2 linked regions of the Homo sapiens genome follow. The gene in region 2 interacts genetically with the main gene of each other region. Each region holds a gene or a part of one and is shown on either strand. Other genes may lie near its edges. The genes, in order: MARCHF5 and MAP1B.

What was found.
Region 1: of MAP1B (region 2) and MARCHF5, a change in one rescues a mutant of the other (synthetic rescue), as found in Homo sapiens cells (one study listed by BioGRID).

The regions. Positions count from the first base shown.
Region 1 is NC_000010.11:92,285,917-92,295,056, reverse strand, and holds the start of MARCHF5 (E3 ubiquitin-protein ligase MARCHF5), read right to left. Parts: upstream 3,891-9,140; 5' UTR 3,563-3,890; coding exon 3,528-3,562; intron 1-3,527. UniProt on the Homo sapiens protein: Mitochondrial E3 ubiquitin-protein ligase that plays a crucial role in the control of mitochondrial morphology by acting as a positive regulator of mitochondrial fission and as an important regulator of immune response.
Region 2 is NC_000005.10:72,101,571-72,110,956, reverse strand, and holds the start of MAP1B (microtubule-associated protein 1B), read right to left. Parts: upstream 3,483-9,386; 5' UTR 3,426-3,482; coding exon 3,242-3,425; intron 3,033-3,241; exon of another isoform or gene 2,363-3,032; intron 2,183-2,362; exon of another isoform or gene 1-2,182. UniProt on the Homo sapiens protein: Facilitates tyrosination of alpha-tubulin in neuronal microtubules. Phosphorylated MAP1B is required for proper microtubule dynamics and plays a role in the cytoskeletal changes that accompany neuronal differentiation and neurite extension.

The sequences.
Region 1 (9,140 bases), on a different chromosome or scaffold from region 2:
ACTGAAAAATAACATTTTTTTTTAAGACAGGGTCTTGCTCTGTTACCTGGGCTGTAGTACCCAGGGGCACAAACACAGCTCACTACAGCCACGACCCCCAAGGAATCCTTCCACCTCAGCTTCCTGAATATTTGGGACCACAGGCATGTGCCACCAGGCCTGGCCTAATTTTTAACATTTTTGTAAAGACTGAGTCTTGCCATGTTGCCCACACTGGTGTCTAACTCCTGGGCTCAAGCAATCCTCTCATCTCGGCCTCCCAAAGTGCTGGGATTACAGGCATGAGCTACTGTGCCTGGCCTAAATAAAATACGTAACTTAACCTAAAAGCAACAGAACAATATGTAACACACAGTTCCTTAGTCTTCACGAAGATAAAACCTGCATTAAAGAAATAAACAAATGAACAGTTATCTGAGCTAAATTCTGTCCCTCAAAAATTGCCACCAAAAACCAGGTTGGGGAGAAGCCAAATTCATGAAAAGAATTCTGGGTCCTAATAGGCTGACATATTTTAGTCTCTTGGCCCTGTTGGTATTCCTCAAGTGAACCATGTTGAGTATCTTTGTGTTCAACTTGCAGTAGGGCCAGCCCAGGTGAAGAAAGCTGTAAACATAAAGTAGATGGGGGAAAAATGGCCAAACTGGTTTACATTAGTCTTAAGTGCCTTCTATTTGGCTAACATAGAGTGTTTTGCTGTTTTATAGAGATGTATGTTTCATTTGCTGTAGCCCTGTGAAGTAGGGTTCTCATTTTATAAATGATAATATACATAGTGTCAGAATCTAAGTTCAAAGTCACATAGCTAGTAAGTGGCAAAATTCGAATTTCATACTTTCTATCTCTGAGCCCAAGCTTTACTCACTATACCCTACTATCTCTTATCATGAAAGATATCACTGACTTAGGACTTAGGGCAGTAGGTTTCTGCCATATCTAAAACATTTAAAAAGCTTTAAAATATAGATGCCCAGGCTCTACCCTACAGAAATTTTTGATCTTATTGGTCTTACAGTCCAGCATCCATGCATATTCTGAAATGCTCCCCAGGTAATTCTAACATGGAAGTAGGTTGCCAACTACTAATCTAGACAATAACGGTCTTTGAAAGTCATGTTAAAAATCTACCTTAAGGTATGTCAAAAGAGTACAAAGATGAGAGTAGTACAAAGATGAGAGTAAGCCAGTGTCATAGTCACCTACTTCAGTAAATGGCAGCCAGAATCTTCGCATTTCTGTTAATAAGTTTTAAATGCCTCACTAGCTTTTTTTTTTGAGATGGAGTTCCACTCTGTCACTCAGGCTGGAGTACAATGGTGCGATCTCAGCTCACTGCAACCTCCGTCTCCCAGGTTCAAGCAATTCTCATGCCTCAGCCTCCCGAGAGTTGGAACTACAGGCCCACGCCACTACGCCTGCCTAATTTTTGTATTTTTTTTTTTTTTTTTAGTAGAGACAGGGTTTCACCATGTTGGCTAGGCTGGTCTCAAAGGCCTGAGCTCTAGTGATCTGCCTGCCTTGGCCTCCCAAAGTGCTGGGATTACAAGGGTGAGCCACCGTGCCCAGGCTCACTCTTTGGCTTCTTACTTTTATGGAAATATCCAAAGAGCATATGAAAAGTTAGGTCAGCTTTTGGACATAAGAACTTTTCTAGGCTGGGCACGATGGCTCATGCCTGACAATCCAGCACTTTGGGAGGCTAGGCGGGAGGATCACTTGAGCCCAGGAGTTTGAGACCAGCACAGGCAACATGGCAAAACTCTGGCTCTATAAAAATACAAAAAATTAGCTGGGCATGGTGGTATGTGTTGTGGTCCCAGCTACTAGGGAGGCTGAGGTAGGAGGATCACCTGAGCCTGGGAGGCGGGGGTTGCAGTGAGTTGAGATCATGCCAATGCCACTGCCACTGCCACTGCATTCCAGTCTGGGCAACAGAGACCCTGTCTCAAAAAAAGAAGAAAAAAAGTCACTATGTAAAAATGAAAAGCAGGAGGCCCTCAAAGGAAAAAAATTAACTACAAAATACCCCACATCAGAACAGGGTCTCAACAGAATAGAACTGGCAGTGGCAGGTGGTTTCCTCTGGGCATATTTTAATTTGCCACAATTTGCCAATTTACAATGAAAGGAAAACCTGGTAAATTATCAGACCCCCTAGACAACTGGGGAAACTGACAAATAAGTTTGTGCATTAGTTCATACAACAAATACTTACTGATTACCTACTGAGTACCAGGCTCTGTTCTGGGATTCAAGATAAACAATAGTAAGTTTCTGCTTCCAAGAGCTTATAAACCACACACATATCACACACATATATATATAAAGCAGTCAATACAATTGTCAGGATGTTGACCTGAAACAAGGGCTGGATGAATCACCAGTTATCTCAACTGAAAAAAATCAGTGACATAATTCCTATTAACTGAGATGGCTCAAAATTCTAAGCTCCAAAAAAATGTCTGTCACTCTGGAAGGATGTGTACCCTTGGGTCATTTGTGTTCTGGGTGTGGCAGGCCCAAAAGCATTTAACTGGGTATAAACTCAATTAAGGGAGGGCCTTCATTTAACACCTTACAGTTGGAATTTTACTGAGTACAAAGAGTTGGTACCACCTGCTGAAATGGGTGGCAAGTGGTGTCTATTGAGAATTGTAAGCAACCACAAACATCATGAATTAGCTTGTACAACTTGCTATGCCAGGAAGTAAGACTTGGCTCGGGGGAAATGTGGATCTAGAGTCTCCAAAAACTCATGGTAGGACCCACGGACCAGAATTTCAACAGCAGAGGGCGGTGCACCCGACTTCACAAAGAGTTTTACCGACTGGGGCCCCCCAAGAATGGGCAACTGGACTCCTGTACGAGCTGAAACGTCTTCAATGAACTCAACGATCGTCAAGTACACTAAATGTTCAGCGTTGGACTCATTTGGCTGTTTTCCATAACCTCTACTCTGGTCTGACCGTTAAATCTCCCTTGCGGATACTCTGACCTTACAGTTCGGAGGTGGGGACGGGATGGGGCGGGGGGGACGGGGGGTGCGGGTTCAGGGAAAGTGGGAGAATGAAATCAGCCTATCAGGCTTTCCAAAAGAATGCTTATCATTGGTTCTCAGACAGAGACTTAAAATTATAAGGGGGTCATTCCCCTGAAAGATAACCCGGTTCTTGCCAGTGACATCGCTGACAAACACTTCACAAGTTGGGGAGGGGGAAGGGGGAGGGGAAGAGGGTAAGGAAAACTAATTTTGTGGATTAACAGGAGTCCCTCTCAGGTCAAAACGGGGTTCCAAGGAAACCAGACGCCACTCCTTAGCTAAGTTTCACCCAAAGTCTACGACCCAGGCCGCTCGCTCTGTCCTCCCCCAGGTCTAGACTCCAAACTTTTTGCCCCTCTCACGGCCCCCTGGCCGTGGAACTCCTCCCGGCACGCCGGGTTCTGCTCACCAAGAGCCTCGAGGGCGGGCGCGGGCAGGGCCAGAGCGAGGGTCGGCGGCTCCCGGTCCCCCCCACAGCTGCCCGTACCTGTCCAGCATCTGCTGTAGGGCTTGGTCCGGCATCTTCCGCGGAGCCGGCGCACACGGCCTTCCCCAGTGGACCCGCTCAAGGCCAGGCCCAGGGACAATAGCACTGAGAGGCGGCGGAGTAGGCCGCAGTCCGGCGGCAGCCGCGAACCCGTCACCCAGCTTCCCGGGGCAGCTCCGCTAGCCTGGCGGCGGCGGTGCAGGGCCTGCGGGAGTCCGGCGGAGGCGGCGGAGAGCGAGGAGGAGGAGCCTGAGGCGGGGAGGCGGCGATCGCGGCCCGGGTTCCCGTCCGTCGGCCCGAGGTTCCGGTCCATGGACCGCGGGCGCCGAGTTGCTGCCGGCGGAGGAGCTACCTTTGTGAGGTAAGAGTCGCCGCCTCCGTGCGCGCCAGGGTTACGACGCAGGGCGGCCCAGAGCAGCCTGGGAGATGTAGTCTTCGGACCGTCTCCACTAGAGGCTGCACAGCCCGCCCGGACCAACGCCTCCGCGCCTGCCGCCGTCTGGCCGGCGCCCTCCCGTTTCCTTCCTCCAGGGGGAAAAAATGTCTTTCGGGCCGCTTTCCAGGAAGCAGCAGGATGCGCCGCTCCACTGTCGGTAGCAACAAGGTCAGCCCTCCCTGCCTGTTTGTTTTTGCCTCCGCTCTTGCCCTCAGGTGGGACCGAGCCAGGTGAGGGGAGGGGGCTGAAGGGCCATTTCTTATCAGGGTCCCCGGCCCCGGCCGTGGCGTCGGGGCGGTCAGTGGCGGCAGTGGGGGTGGCAGAAACTCCTTCCGAAGCCCCCGGCGCTGGAGCCAGCCTCTCCTGCGGCAGAGCCCATTTTGGGGGAATTACACCACCTCCGCGAGGGGTCGGTTGGTTTGGTGCGTGAGGTTCTTCTTGAGGGGGCGGGCAAATAGGGACTGCCTGGACCAGACAGCTTCCACCCGAGTCTCTCTGTGTGTTTGGGGCTGGGGAGTTGGGGGAAGGAAAGATGATTCTCTCCCTCTCCAGGAACCTTCTCAAATGTGCCTGGGCTTTCCAGGGCTCGCCGACAGTCTCCAAATGGAACACGTTGGTGAATAAACAGCTCTTGCTTACTCAGCTGTGGGTTGTCAGGGATGTTTGTTTCTCTCTCTGCTGCTGGTCACTGTTAACCGTTTCTAGTCGCGTTGACACCTTCAAGCAGGTGGATTGGGAGTGGCGGGGGTGGGGAATCAAAAAGGAGAAATCATCAGTCACTCCTTGGGTCAGCTTCTGACGTTCGAGGGATAGCTTTGGCGGGAGGAAAGAGCTGTCGGCTCAAACGAATGCGTTTTTTGGACGACCTGTGGCGTTTTCTCTAGGGCTGTGATTGGTAGGACGCTGGTAGTTTTCCCTTGATTATGTCTAATATCTGCTACAAGGTGTTTGATTTTTTAAAAAATGAAAATGTGTTTTTAAAGCTCTTTTTATATGTAGAATTTTACAATCAACTTTTCATTATCTGTTCAAAATTTGCGAAGTATATTTGAACTAGAGTGTTCATTGCTGGGAAAAAACAACAAACCCAAAAAATGTGACCAGAAGCTTACTTGGCCTCCAATTTTTGAAATATGTTTTTGAGAAACAGCACCCACCCCCCCCCACCACACACATACACACACACTCCTCCTAGGGAAAGAAAATGAGTATTTAGTTTAATCGGGGTGTCTAATATTTTATATATATTTGTATTATATATAATATATATGTATTATATAATATATAATACATTTATAATATATAATACATATATACATTTATAATATATAATACATATATATATATATATATATATATATTTTTTTTTTTTTTTGGTAGAGACGCGGTCTCGCCATGTTGCCCAGGCTGGTCTTGCAACTCCTGGGCTCAAGCGAGCCACCCGCATTGGTCTCCCAAAGTGTTGGGATTACAGATGTGAGTCACCGCATGTGACCAGTGTCTAATATTTTATTTAATTAATTCATTTATTTAATTAATTCATTGATTTTGAGAGATGGAGTCTTGCTCTGTTGCCCAGGCTGGAGTGCAGTGGCGCTGTCTTGACTCACTGCAAGCTCCACTTCCTGACTTCAAGTGATCCTTCTAGCCTCAGCTTCCCAAGTAGCTGGGACTACAGGTGTGTGCCACCACACCCAGCTAATTTTTGTGTTTTTTAGTAGAGATGGGGTTTCACTATATGTTGACCAGGCTGGTCTCGAACTTCTGACCTCAGGCGATCAGCCCGTCTCGGCCTCCCAAAGTGCTGGGATTACAGGGGCGAGCCACCGCGCCTGGTCTATTTTATTTTTTTGAGACGGAGTCTCGCTGTGTTGCTCAGGATGGAGTGCAGTGGCACTATCTTGGCTCACTGCAGTCTCCTCCTCCGGGTTCAGGTGATTATCGTGCCTCAGCCTCCGGAGTAGCTGGGATTACAGGCTCGCACCACCATGCCTGGCTAACTTTTGTATTTTTGGCAGAGGCAGGGTCTCACCATGTTGACCAGGCTGATCTTGAACTGATCTCAGGTGATCTGCCTGCCTCGGCCTCCCATAGGGCTGGGATCATAGATGTGAGCCACCGTGCACAGCCCGGTGTCTTAACATTTTAAATTATTATTTTTTGCTCCTTGTGCTGTGTCAGTCTAACCTTATTGTGTACTTATTTCTTAAGCAGTTGTCAGCCATGGGAGTTGGATATATACTTCCTGCTTAAAAACAGAATTTTATCCCAGCATATGGATTAAGTACACTAGTACAAACTCCAAGATTCTAAGATCTTAACCAATGTTAGAATGTCTGTTTCAACTGAAATTGGAAAATATGATACCTTTTGTTGATAGCAAAGACTTGTGCACCTTGACCTTATTATACCAACAAATGGATTTTATGTTTGCATTTTTATGAAAAATCAGCTTTCTGGCTGTGTCAAAAACCTTTTAAAGTAGAAAAAAATCCTGTTACTGGTCTAAAGAGTGATTAGCATGTGACCCAGTAATTCCACTTCTAGGTATTTTCAAGAGAAATGAAAACATGTCTACACAAAATCTTGTTTGTGAATGTTCATAGCAGCATTATTCTGGGTTTTTTTTTTTTTTTTTTGAGACAGAGTCTCGCTTTGTCATCCAGGCTGGAGTGCAGTGGCGCCAGCTCACTGCATCCTCAGCCTCAGGGGCTCAAGCACTCCCCCTGCCTCAGCCCCCCAAGTAGCTAGGACTACAGGGGCGCACCACCATGTCTGGCTTAAAAAAATTTTTTTTGTAGAGATGGTGTTTTGCCATGTTGCCCAGGCTGGTTTCGAACTCATGAGCACAAATGATCCTCCCACCTCGGCCTCCCAAAATGCTAGGATTACAGGCATGAGCCACAGCACCTGGCCTACAGCATTATTCTTGATAGCCAAAAAGTGGAAACCCAAATATCCACCAGTTGATGAATGGATAAACCACATGTGGTGTATCATACAATAGAATATTATTAGGAGAAAACAAGGAATAAAGTTATGATACATGCTATAACATGAAAGAACCTTGAAAACATTATACCAAGTGAGAGGAGCCAGTCACAAAGACCACATATTGTATGATTCTGTTTGCATGAAAAGTCAAGAATAGGCAACTCCATAGAGACGGAAAGTAGACTAGTGATTGCATAGGGCTGAAGGAGTTGGGGAGAAATGGGGAGTGACTGCTAATGAGTATGAGGTTCCTTATTAGAGGGATGAAAGTATTCTAGAATTAGATAATGGTTCTGGTTATATAATTTTGTGAATTATATCACAAATAAGATAAAATTAGATTATGGTAATAGTGGCAAAACTGTAAATATACTCAAAAACCCATTGTACACTTAAAAGGGGTGAATTTTAATGTTACATAAATTACATCTCAATAAAGCTTTTAAAAGAGTAATTAGCTCCACAGAAAATGTTCATAAGGGTATCTGAAAAGAAGCATATAAACAGATAACTGATAATTCTTTATTATCAACTTTGTTTCTTATTAGTATGGGCAAAAATAGTGATTGATAAAACTCAGAAAATAAATTAATCCTAACATTTGAAATGGGTGACACATATTGTGTGAATTTCAATATTGTTTGTCAGCTTTGTTTTTTGTGGTCTTACATTTTCCAATAAGACTCAGAATAATTGGAATTACAATATATTCTCTGATTTTGAAGGAAAAAAGTCTAGATTATTAAGACCTTAATCTGACCAAAACCACATTGAAATGCACTCCTGCATTTATATGTAGGGTTGAAAATCTATGATAGTGGCGCATACCTGTAGTCCCAGCTACTCAGGAGGCTGAGATAGGAGAATCGCTTGAACCTGGGAGGCGGAGGTTGCAATGAGCTGAGATCGCACCACTGCACTCCAGCCTGGCAACAGAGTGAGACTCCGTCTCAAAAAAAAAAAAAAGTCTATGATAAATGATATTCAGCCAAGAGAGTAACCAGCATGACTATAGACAAAAACAACTTTTTCCTCAGAGATATATTTTGAAATAGAAATTAACCTACAGAAAATATTTAAAGATTCTCCCAAGTTCAGAGGACAAGAACAAAGCTTGATGATGTAGAGTTCTAAAGAGTTGGGATTATAGGCGCACACCACTATTTTAATAATTCTGTAATGGATTTAGAGATAACTGAGTATGAGCTGCTCTAAATATGTCAGAAAATTTAAAATAATATACCACTCTAATGTTCTTCCATCATACTTGTTTTGAACTGTCTACCATAAAGGGGCCTGGAGTATTCGTTACAGAAATGGTATAATATTTTTAGGTGCCTTCTAAGGAGAACTGTCAATTGCCAAATTTGGTGATAAACTGCAGGCTGAGTCCTCATTCCAAGCTACAGAAAGTTTTTTTTTCATTAATTCCTTCAGCAGGTGTTTCCAGAAAATATATGCATAGGTATGCTAGTAGCAAATTATAACTATACCTATGTTTTTTTTTTTTTTTTTTAGATAGAGTCTTGCTCTGCTGCCCAGGCTGGAGTGCAGTGGTGCCATCTCAGCTCACTGCAACCTCCCACTCCCAGGTTCAAGAGATTCTCATGCCTCAGCCACCTGAGTAGGTGGGATCACAGGCATGCATCACCACGCCCAGCTAATTTTTGTATTTTTAGTAGAGATGAGGTTTCTCCATGTTGCCCAGGCTGGTCTTGAACTCCTGACCTCAAGTGATCCACTTGCCTTGGCCTCCCAAAGTGCTGAGATTGCAGGCATGAGCCACTGTGCCTGGCCTATAGCTACCCTTCAGAGGCATACAATCTACATACCTAAATATGTTTATATTTAGAAAAATAAAAGCAGGCTGGGTGTGGTAGCTCACGCCTGTAATCCCAGCACTTTGGGAGGCCGAGGTGGGCAGATCACAAGGTCAGGAGATCGAAACCATCCTGGCTAACACAGTGAAACCCTGTCTCTACTAAAAATACAAAAAATTAGCCGGGCATGGTGGCGGGCGCCTGTAGTCCCAGCTACTCGGGAGGCCAAGGCTGGAGAATGGCGTGAATCCATGAGGCGGAGCTTGCAGTGAGCCGAGATTGTACCACTGCACTCCAGCCTGGGGACAGACTCCCTCTCAAAAAAAAAAAAAGAAAAAAGCAAATAAAACAGAGTATAATAAT
Region 2 (9,386 bases):
TTCCGAATATAGTTGAGAAAGCAAGAGGGACCATCTCTCTTCCCTGGTTTCAAGAGGCATTTACGAAGCATCCACATTGGGACGTTCCAGGCCTGTTGATTTACTGCATTACCACCATGTCTCTACAGATTTATAGATTATTTTCTAGGCTTCCCAGAGAGCCCTCAGTAATCGGATGGCAAGAATCCAAGTCGCCAGGGTCTCCAAACCCAGAATCTCAGTTAAGGCAGGAGGGGAAATAGGAAGAAAGAGTAACAGATGCGGAACTGCCTTCCCAGCCTGCAACACACAATCATCAGAGCTGGCCCCCCTGGAGCAGCTCCATCTTGCTTCACACAACAAGGCCCAAAGGCACCAAGCAACAACAGCAGTGGCCTCTGGAGGAGGCCCAGCTGAGACCTGGCGGCTGAAGCAGCAGCTTGTCGTGCACAGGAAAACAGGACCAGCCTGCTCTGTTGCTAAGTCATCTCAGACTGTCTGAAAAGCTATGGGAGCAGGATTTTCACTTAGCGCTGGAAGGGCCTGCATCTTGAGCTGCAGCCAAGACCCCAGAACCCAGGAGAGCCATCTTCAGAGGAAAAGCAGCATCTGCTACGGTGTGTAAAGAAACGGCTCTGCTCACTCACTTGGTTGATTCTTAATGGGATCAATACAGTCATTTCGGAGTTCCATGCAAAAACCTGACCAAATTAGGGAATTAAAAAATCAGGAAGCCATGATGTCTATTGCAAAGGGAACACAAGGGGGCTTCTGGGGTTCCAGTAATGTCTGTTTCTTGATCTGGGTAACCCAGGCGTGTCCGTTTTGTGAAAATTCGTTGAGCTGCTCATCTTTGATTTGTGCCCTTTCCTCTCTATATAATACTTCAACCGAATTTTTTAAAAAATTAATGTCAAGAAGACAAATCTGAATTTTGTCACTAAGTGCTAGTAGTGTAAAAACGAGTAAAGGCAGGGAGCCCTTCTTCATAGCAGTACGTGGATGCGTCTGTTTTCTCCATAAATAGATGCAGCTTGTATAAACCCTCTGAGGAATAGGGCGCTGAAAGGATGATCAGATGAGTAACAAAGCAGGAAGATAATTACGATCCGAAGGTGATTGCTGAACCATCTCCCAGCATGGGGCGCTGCCCACAAGTGGATGGCCATACAAAGGCAAGCCCTGAAAACTGTTGTACTGAAACCTTCCTCCCATCATAGGATGTTAGCCAACCCTGCACTAACATCATGACAGGGTCAGAAAACGAGTGACGCTGCAGTACTGGTACTTCTGTCACTTATGAGTGCTGTGACCTTGAGCCGGTTCTCTTACCCTTCCTGCCTCTCTGGGCCCCCAGCTCTAAAACGGGGTTGATGATCCCTCTCCTAGCACCACCACATCGAATGGTTATGAAGATTTTGTAGATAGAAAAGCACCTCCTAATATATTCCTATTTCCCAGAAATGCTACTTACAAATAATTTTTTAAAGAAAAAAATCCAAAGTCATTGATTCCCACAATAGCCACACCCAAAGTCAGTATGTGTAAAATTTTTCCAGGAGAAAATTGTGCAAATAAACTAAATTAGAACAGATTAGACCAAAGGCCTATATAGTCTGAAAATGAAGGGTTATTGAGATGCTCAAATAAGACATTTCACTACTGAAATATCTCTTGTTCTTGAATTTTTTGGAATAAAATACTATGACTTTCTGCTCACATTTTTTTTCTTTTTTTTTTTTAAGCTAAAAGGGAAAATCAAGTGCTTTAAAGTTAAACAAAAGAACCAGGTCTGCAACTCCAGTCCCCACCCTGCAGCCTTTTGTTCTGGGGACAAGTGGCCGTTTCCAACTGCAGAGGCAGATGACAAGCATTTATTTTTTCATCTAAAACAAGGTTTTTCTTTCGTCTTTTATTGGGGAGGGGGAGTGGGGAACGAGGGCTGCGTGAACGCCCTTTGTCCGCCTCGGGCTGCCGTAGAGACCGCAGTGCGGACTGCACCACGCCCACCAACCGGTGTCTCCCGGAGAAACGCTTCAGCACCACCCCAGGAGAATAGAGCGCGGGCTGGGGCTGCGGAGGGACCCGGCGACCTCTGTCAGGAGCGAGGGGAGGGCCGGGACGCCAGGGATAAAGGGAAAGGCAGAGACCAGAGCTGCCCACCCAGGGACTCCCAGGGCAACAAAGCCAGGCAAACTGAGAGGTGGGGGCGCGCGGCCCCCGCCAGCCCGAGGCCCGGGCGGAGCGCAAGCCCAGCCAGCCGTGCCCGACGGGGGCGCCGCAGTGTGGGGGGGCAGGTGTGGCGGGCGGTCCGGAGGCACTGCGGCAGCTCGGGTGGGGCTGGGGGCGGTCTCTCTGTGCGCCCGAGGCTGTGCCCGCCGGACCCTCACGGCCCCGCCCAGGGTCCCCGGCGTACCGCTATTCGGCCTCCGCAGAGCGCGCCACTGGTGCGAGCACCGGGCGAGGAGCTGACCCTACCCGCTGACGTCTCCCTCACCGACCCCCTTCAAGCTACCACTCCCGAGGCTGGGACTTCTAAAAGCAGCAGCCCCACCCCGCAACTTGGGGTCCCATTGTCCTTTCTGAGAGCTGCAGCCAAGGCCCCAAGGGCGGTAGCGAGGCGGGCTCTGTCTGGTGGCGAAGCGCAGGCGGTTCTGCATCCCAGCATCTCCCCGGGGAGGGGGGGGCGGGGGGAGCGGGCGTGGCCCTAGGACTAGCCTAGTCATTCTGAGGAAAGAAAGGATCGGGAGGTTTGAAATCAGAAAAGGCGTTTCTCAGGGGCTGAGGTAGCCGTGGTGAGGATGAATCCCACGCGGGCCCTGGCACATGGGCTTCGGCCCCAGGTCTGCGGTGGTGGGGGTCCCAGCCTTTTCCTGAGGCCAGAAGAGGACTGAAAGGAGTGGTTGCATCAGGTCTCCCCCACCCTTCTGCCTCCTGCGGTTGCGGCTTTATTGTGGCCTCTGCTCCCCTGACACCTGCATTTCACTTAGCGGGAGAGGCGGTGGCCAACTCAGCACAGGCTGCGGACTCAGCGTGGTGACAGATCCCTCAAGGTTATTGGAGACTCTCCCTCTGGGTCTCATATCTAATAATTCGGATTATTCTTAATTAGCCCAGAAAGGGTCTGGACCAAGTATGAGAGGTGACGAGGAGAGGCATGGGTGCGGGGCGCGCGGGAGGAGCGCAGTGACCGTCGCGCCCTGGGTGGGGTCGTGTTTGCGCGTCTCCCAGCGCGCGTCTCTGGGGGCGCGGGGCCACTTACCGAGCTCGATGTTGCCGATGGCACGCCGCAGGTGCTCCTCGGTCACGATCTCGCCGACGACCACCAGCAAGTAGAACTTGCTGTCAAGGAAGCGGTGCGACAGGCTAGGCGAGGTGGACGCCGCCGGGTTGGCGATGCTGCCGGACGGCTCCGGCTCGGTGGCTTCCACCACCACGGTCGCCATCCTGCCGGCTGCTGTGCCTCGGCGAAGTGTCTCGCTCCGGCCGCTCCTCTCCACTGCGGCAGGAGAAAGGATTATCTCCGAAGGTACTGTCTCCGCTCCGCCCCCTGCGTCCCCCCTCCTCTGGCGCCGCGCGCCGCCTCCCCCTCCGCCCTCTCCCAGCGCCGCGGAGAGTGCGCGGCGGAGAGGAGCGGGGAGTGAGAGAGGGCGGGGAGGCGGCGCCGCTTTTATATGGAGACTAGGCAGGGAGCCGGGAGGAGGAGGAAGAGGAGGAGGAAAGGACCACCCGGCACATCCTCACGCGGTGGCTGCCTCCGCTCTTCCAGCCGTTGGCCCGGGGCTGATGTCATCTGCAGCAAATCATCTCGCCCGCGGCCCGGAAGCTGGAGGGACGAGGTGTGCGGACAATGGTCGGGGCAGGGCCGCGAGCCAAGGGGCTGGGGCGCCCGCTGAGCTCCTGCTGCAGCCGTGAAGGGGGAAGACGCTCTCAACCTACACCACCCACCACGTACACACCCACTGCCCACTCCTCACCCTCACCCTGTCTGTGCATGGGAATGGGATGAGTTTCCATTTTCGGAGTGGGGGTCTTTTCTCTTGTTGGAGTTGCACTAGTCAGGCCTCTGCCTTGTGTGCTGTGTATGATGTAGCCAGGTTCTCAGGAACTGGGATAGCCACAGTGGGCAGATGCGGGGCTGTGGGTACCCCGCCTAGGAAGACGGAACCTGTCTTTTCTTTGACCTTGTGGCTTTAAGAAGACGAATTTACTGATATTTACCAATATCAATATTTACCACCTTCACTTAAAGAATACATCAAAAATGCAAAACTTAAGCCTACTATTGTTCAGGCCTTGGATTCTACTCTGGCAGGGCCAAGGATGAAAAAGTACTGGCTTTGTGGTGCTCATGGGAAATGAGAGAAATGCAGATGTATTATATTAGATACCAATTTCTTTCCTTAATGTGCTGAACAGATAGTATCAGTAATAACAAAGAATAAAGAGAAGATACTGTCTCTACTCAGCAGGGTTACAGTGACTATAATGTACTTTTCAGTTCCTTGGGGAACACACAAGCAAAATTACCTCGTGACAATGATGTCTTTTAAAATACCTGTAGCATTGGGAATTTTTATTGCCTTTGTTTGTGTTTAGAAGAACTAAAAAATGTGTTTTTTGTTTTTGTTTTTTTGTTTTTTTTTTTAAGGCAGCCTATTTACAACCGTTTCTCACAAACATACTGAATATAGCTTCTGTCCCAGAAAAGGGGAGGAGGGTGAGGAAAGAGCAAAATGTGCAAACATGGTATCATAGAAGACTGGGGAATTCGAGCTTTAAGGAAGAGGAATAGATGGAAATTAGTCAACATAGCTTTAATACTAGAATGCCTGTTAGTAAAATATAGATGATAGATAGATAGATAGATAGATAGATAGATAGATAGATAGATAATCACCTAGATATTCTTAAGATTTCCAAAATAACCCAGTGTCTTAGGTGTTAGCTGCCATGACTTATTGGTCATGTACTCTTTGCTCTTATATCTTTCCTGACACCCTGGCATGGGAGACATGCTGGGCAGCCAAGGGCTGGGGGGTTCCATCCAACATGTCAATCTGATCAATGCAGAATGAAAATACCGTCTGGCCCGCAGTATTTGGGATCTGTGACAGGATCACTAGAGAGTTGCATTCACCAGTAATTAGATGAAGTGTTTCCAACTAGCTGCATTCACCAGTAACTAGATGAAGTGTTTCCAGATAATATTTTGGTTAAGATATTCAATTGCTGTTCAAGAAGTAAGGCCAGCACCAAAGCCCATAACTGGGGTGAGGGGCAGGAAATATGGTGAAGAGCACTGTTTTCTAAAGGTCATCCGTTGGATTCCAGCCTCATCTAGTTTGTGTTTGGTTTTCCTTTCTTTGAACCATTGTTACTTTTATGTATGTAATAGTTTTCTTTTATGCAGTTTATTTCTTTTACTTAAATTTATTTTTAAATGCAATTCTATGTTGCTGTATAAATGGAAACACTAATATCACTTATTAATAGAAAGTATCCCTAAAAATATACACAATGAAGATAAGATGTGATCAAATTCCTGCTACATACTGTTATGATTTGCTCAAGACTCTGAGTCCAAGGCTCTCCTTTCTTGGTTGAAAACAGAGATTGGCCAAGTGTTAGAGAGGTATTAAAGAGATACTAACACCTAACTGAGTTGTTCTCCATGTTGCAACAGAAGATTGGATGAAAATTATAACAGAGCGCTTTCTTACTGTGTGTGTCTGTGCAATTAAACACCATGACCGTGACCACCTAAGTCATCACCCACACTTTGAAAAATAGAGGCATAATGGGAGAACACAGACTAGGGATGCAGAATACTACTTTACAGCTCGGTAACTTTGGCAAGTGACTTACTCTTTTTGATCTTCCATCTCCTTATTTAATGAGAAGAAGAACATCTTTATAACTGTTAAAGTAACTGTAAGAAAGAAGGAAATGATAGAATGTGTAAGCACCTAATACAGTGGCTGGGCATAGTAAGCAATCAAGGGATGGTTGATTCATTGACCTGTTTTCTCCCAGTTACTAAGACAATGGAGCAAAAGCAGTCTTATAAAATGTGCAAGTGATACTGCTACAACACCTCTGAAACAAGAACAGAATATTACATTATTATACTTCAATACTAGAAAAGTAGCCCCTTCCCCTCTTCATCCCAAGAAAATGTATACAGTTCTAAGGAGGAAAAAGGGGGAAAACTAACATATAAGAGCACCAATATTGCCAGCTGCTCAACTGACATCACCTGGATATACCAAAGGCACCAGAATCTTGACATGCTCCAAACCCAAATCATCTTTTACCTCTAAACGGGATCCTCTCTCATTCTTGTTATTTCAATGAACCATAACACCATGTATCCCATGATGCAAACCAAAACCTCACAAATATTTTGGACTCTCCCCTGACCCTTAGCCTCGTGTGCAATCCAGCATGGAGTCTGGTCAATTTCACCTTCAGTATCTCTTCAATCCATCCACGTTTCTCCATTATCACCAACCTAGTCCAAGCTAGCATCATTGTGATAGGTACTAGTGTACCGGTTAGAAAATGGGTTCTGGAGTCAGACTGCCTGGTTTTGAATCCTAATACCATAATTTATTAGCTGTGTGGCCTTAAGCAAGGTGCTTAACCACTCTATACCTTGGTTTTCTCATTTGTATAGTAGAGATGAGTACCGACCTCATGGACAGGAGGACAGTTTAAATATGCAAATTACTTAAAACAGTGCCTTGCATATAATGAGCACTTAATAGGGATTAGTTGTTTTTGGTATGGGGTTAGTTGTTTTTGGCTGTTATTGTTTAACATTTTACTATGGAAAATTTCAAACAGAGAGAGTATAATGTAAGTAACACCCACATACCCATTATCCCCAATCCATAGATTTTTATAGTTTGCTTCTTTAAATCAAGATTGAAATAATGTCTATATATTTCAACTGATTCATCAGTCTTAAACTCCTTTGATCTATGTAATCCTGCTATTTTTTTCCTTGTAATTTTCTGTTGAATAGTGGCAACATTGTTCAGCAGAGTTTCACAAAGCATAAATTTTGCCGATTGCATCACCTGTTGTGTTATTTAACATGTTCTTCTATCTTCTGAATTTTCTGAGAGAACTAAAGTCTTGATCAGATGCAGATTTGATATTTTTTACATGTATACTTCATAGGTAATATTGTGATCTTCCATCAGAAGGCACCTAAAGACTAGTTAACCCTCATTCTGTGATTTTAGCAGCTATTGATGATCATTACCTAGATCCATTATTTCACTATGGATTGAAAAAATGATAATATTCTAATTTTGTTATTATTTATTTGACAGCTAGAAGACTTCTGTTAGGAGAAGCGTTATCCTGTCAGTTGATTACCCTGAGGTACGGTATGTACAGGAAAAGAAGGATAAACAAATGATTTTTTCTCTTTATTTACTGATTTTCAAAATAATTAATTTATTCCAAATCATTCTCTAAAGGTGACTAATTTTTTGTATCATTACAAATATAACTTACATTATTCATATTGATGCTTTCATTTTTTCATCTTTGGCCAGTAGTATGGTAAGGTATCCCTAGCTTACCTTGCACATATCTGGCCTCAGAACCTGGAATGAGCCGTTTCTCTATGGAATCCAAGTTCCTTACGTGGGTAATGGTATTTGGAGACCCCTGTATACCAGGTGCTACTACTATTTTGATCATTGTTTCTAGATATTTTCAGTGGACAGAAATATGAAATAAATTGTTTTTCAAGTATGAGTTCATACTTATACCTCTAACTCAGAATCGGGACTACAGGGATTTTGCCTAACGTTTTATCTTGCATCTGTATTTCCTTTGTCCTATGCCTAGAATTCCAGTTTTCAAAGACTCCAAGGTGACAGAATTAGAACAGCAGATAGTTTCTCATTTTTCTTGTTCCACAATATATACAAATTACCCTCATGGTAGTTTTAGATACGAATGCAACACTTTTGCCAACAATGTGATTACTAAAAACATTTTAAGGTATATAGTTTTTTTGTTTGTTTGTTTGTTTGGTTGGTTGGTTGTTTTTTTTGTTTTTGTTTTTTTTTTTTTTTTTTTTTTGAGACCGATTCTCACTCTTGTTGCCCAGGCTGGAGTGCAGTGGCGCCATCTCGGCTCACTGCAACCTCTGCCTCCCAGGTTCAAGCGATTCTCCTGCCTCAGCCTTCTCAGTAGCTGGGATTACAGGCACCCACCACCATGCCTGGCTAATTTTTGTACCTTTAGTAGAGATGGGGTTTCGCCATGTTGGCCAGGCTGGTCTCAAACTCCTGACCTCAGATGATCTGCCCGCCTCAGCCTACCAAAGTGCTGGGATTATAGGTGTGAGCCACCGTGCCCAGCCTAAGCTATATAGTTTTAAAGTGTAATTAATTCTGTTATATATGATCGTGCCACTAACTCAGTGCATAGTTATGTTCATTTGTTTCATTTTGTTTTCAGTTTTTATGAATTGATTTTTACAATTTAATTTTGCTTTATAGTAATGTAAAATATTTACATGGTTCCAAGGTGAAATCTACAAAACAATTTGTATTTGGAGAACTTTAGCCTCTATCCCTGTCCCCTCCAGCTTTCTCCCTGTCTCTTCCTGTGAGTAACAATTTTTTACCTTGATTTAGCCTTTCACTTTAAAAATGCAAGTAGCAGCATATACATACAATTTTCTCCACTTTGCTTATTTCATCAAACACTATATCCCGGCTATAACGCTACAATAATATATGTTAATATTCCTCATTTTTATTTATAGCTGCATAGTAACCCATTATGTTTATTTACTATAATTTACTCAACCAGTCCATTGTTGGTGAACATTTGAGCTATTTCCAGTTTAATTTATATTGTAAACAGTAGGTCTAGCTATTTTTTTTTCCCATGCAACCTCAATAGTCACCTTACTGGCATCTGTATATCCACAATGACTCACCCAATCCATGCTTCACACAATATGGAGAATGATCTTTTCTGATCTGGTTTTGTTGCCCCATCTCCACTTAAAACACAAATGGCTCCCCATTTTAGAATAAAGACCAGACTTCTCAGTGTCACCTACAAGCTGGTCCCCATTTATCTCAGCAGCTTCATCTGGCCCCTCCACTTGCCCTTACTTTCCAGCATCAGCCACAATGACTTTGTGCCAAACCATCCTTCCCTCCAACACAGGCTTTCCCTTGCTTTTCCTCCTGATGAGAGCACTACTTTTGTCCATTTTCTGTTGCTGTAACAGATTACCACAGACTGGGTAATTTATAAAGAAAAGACTAGTTGAACTCTATGCTCCACAGGAGCAAAGAACATGTCTATCCCCACCCCCACACACCCTTTTCACACCCACCCAGCCACCCATATACCTTAGCATT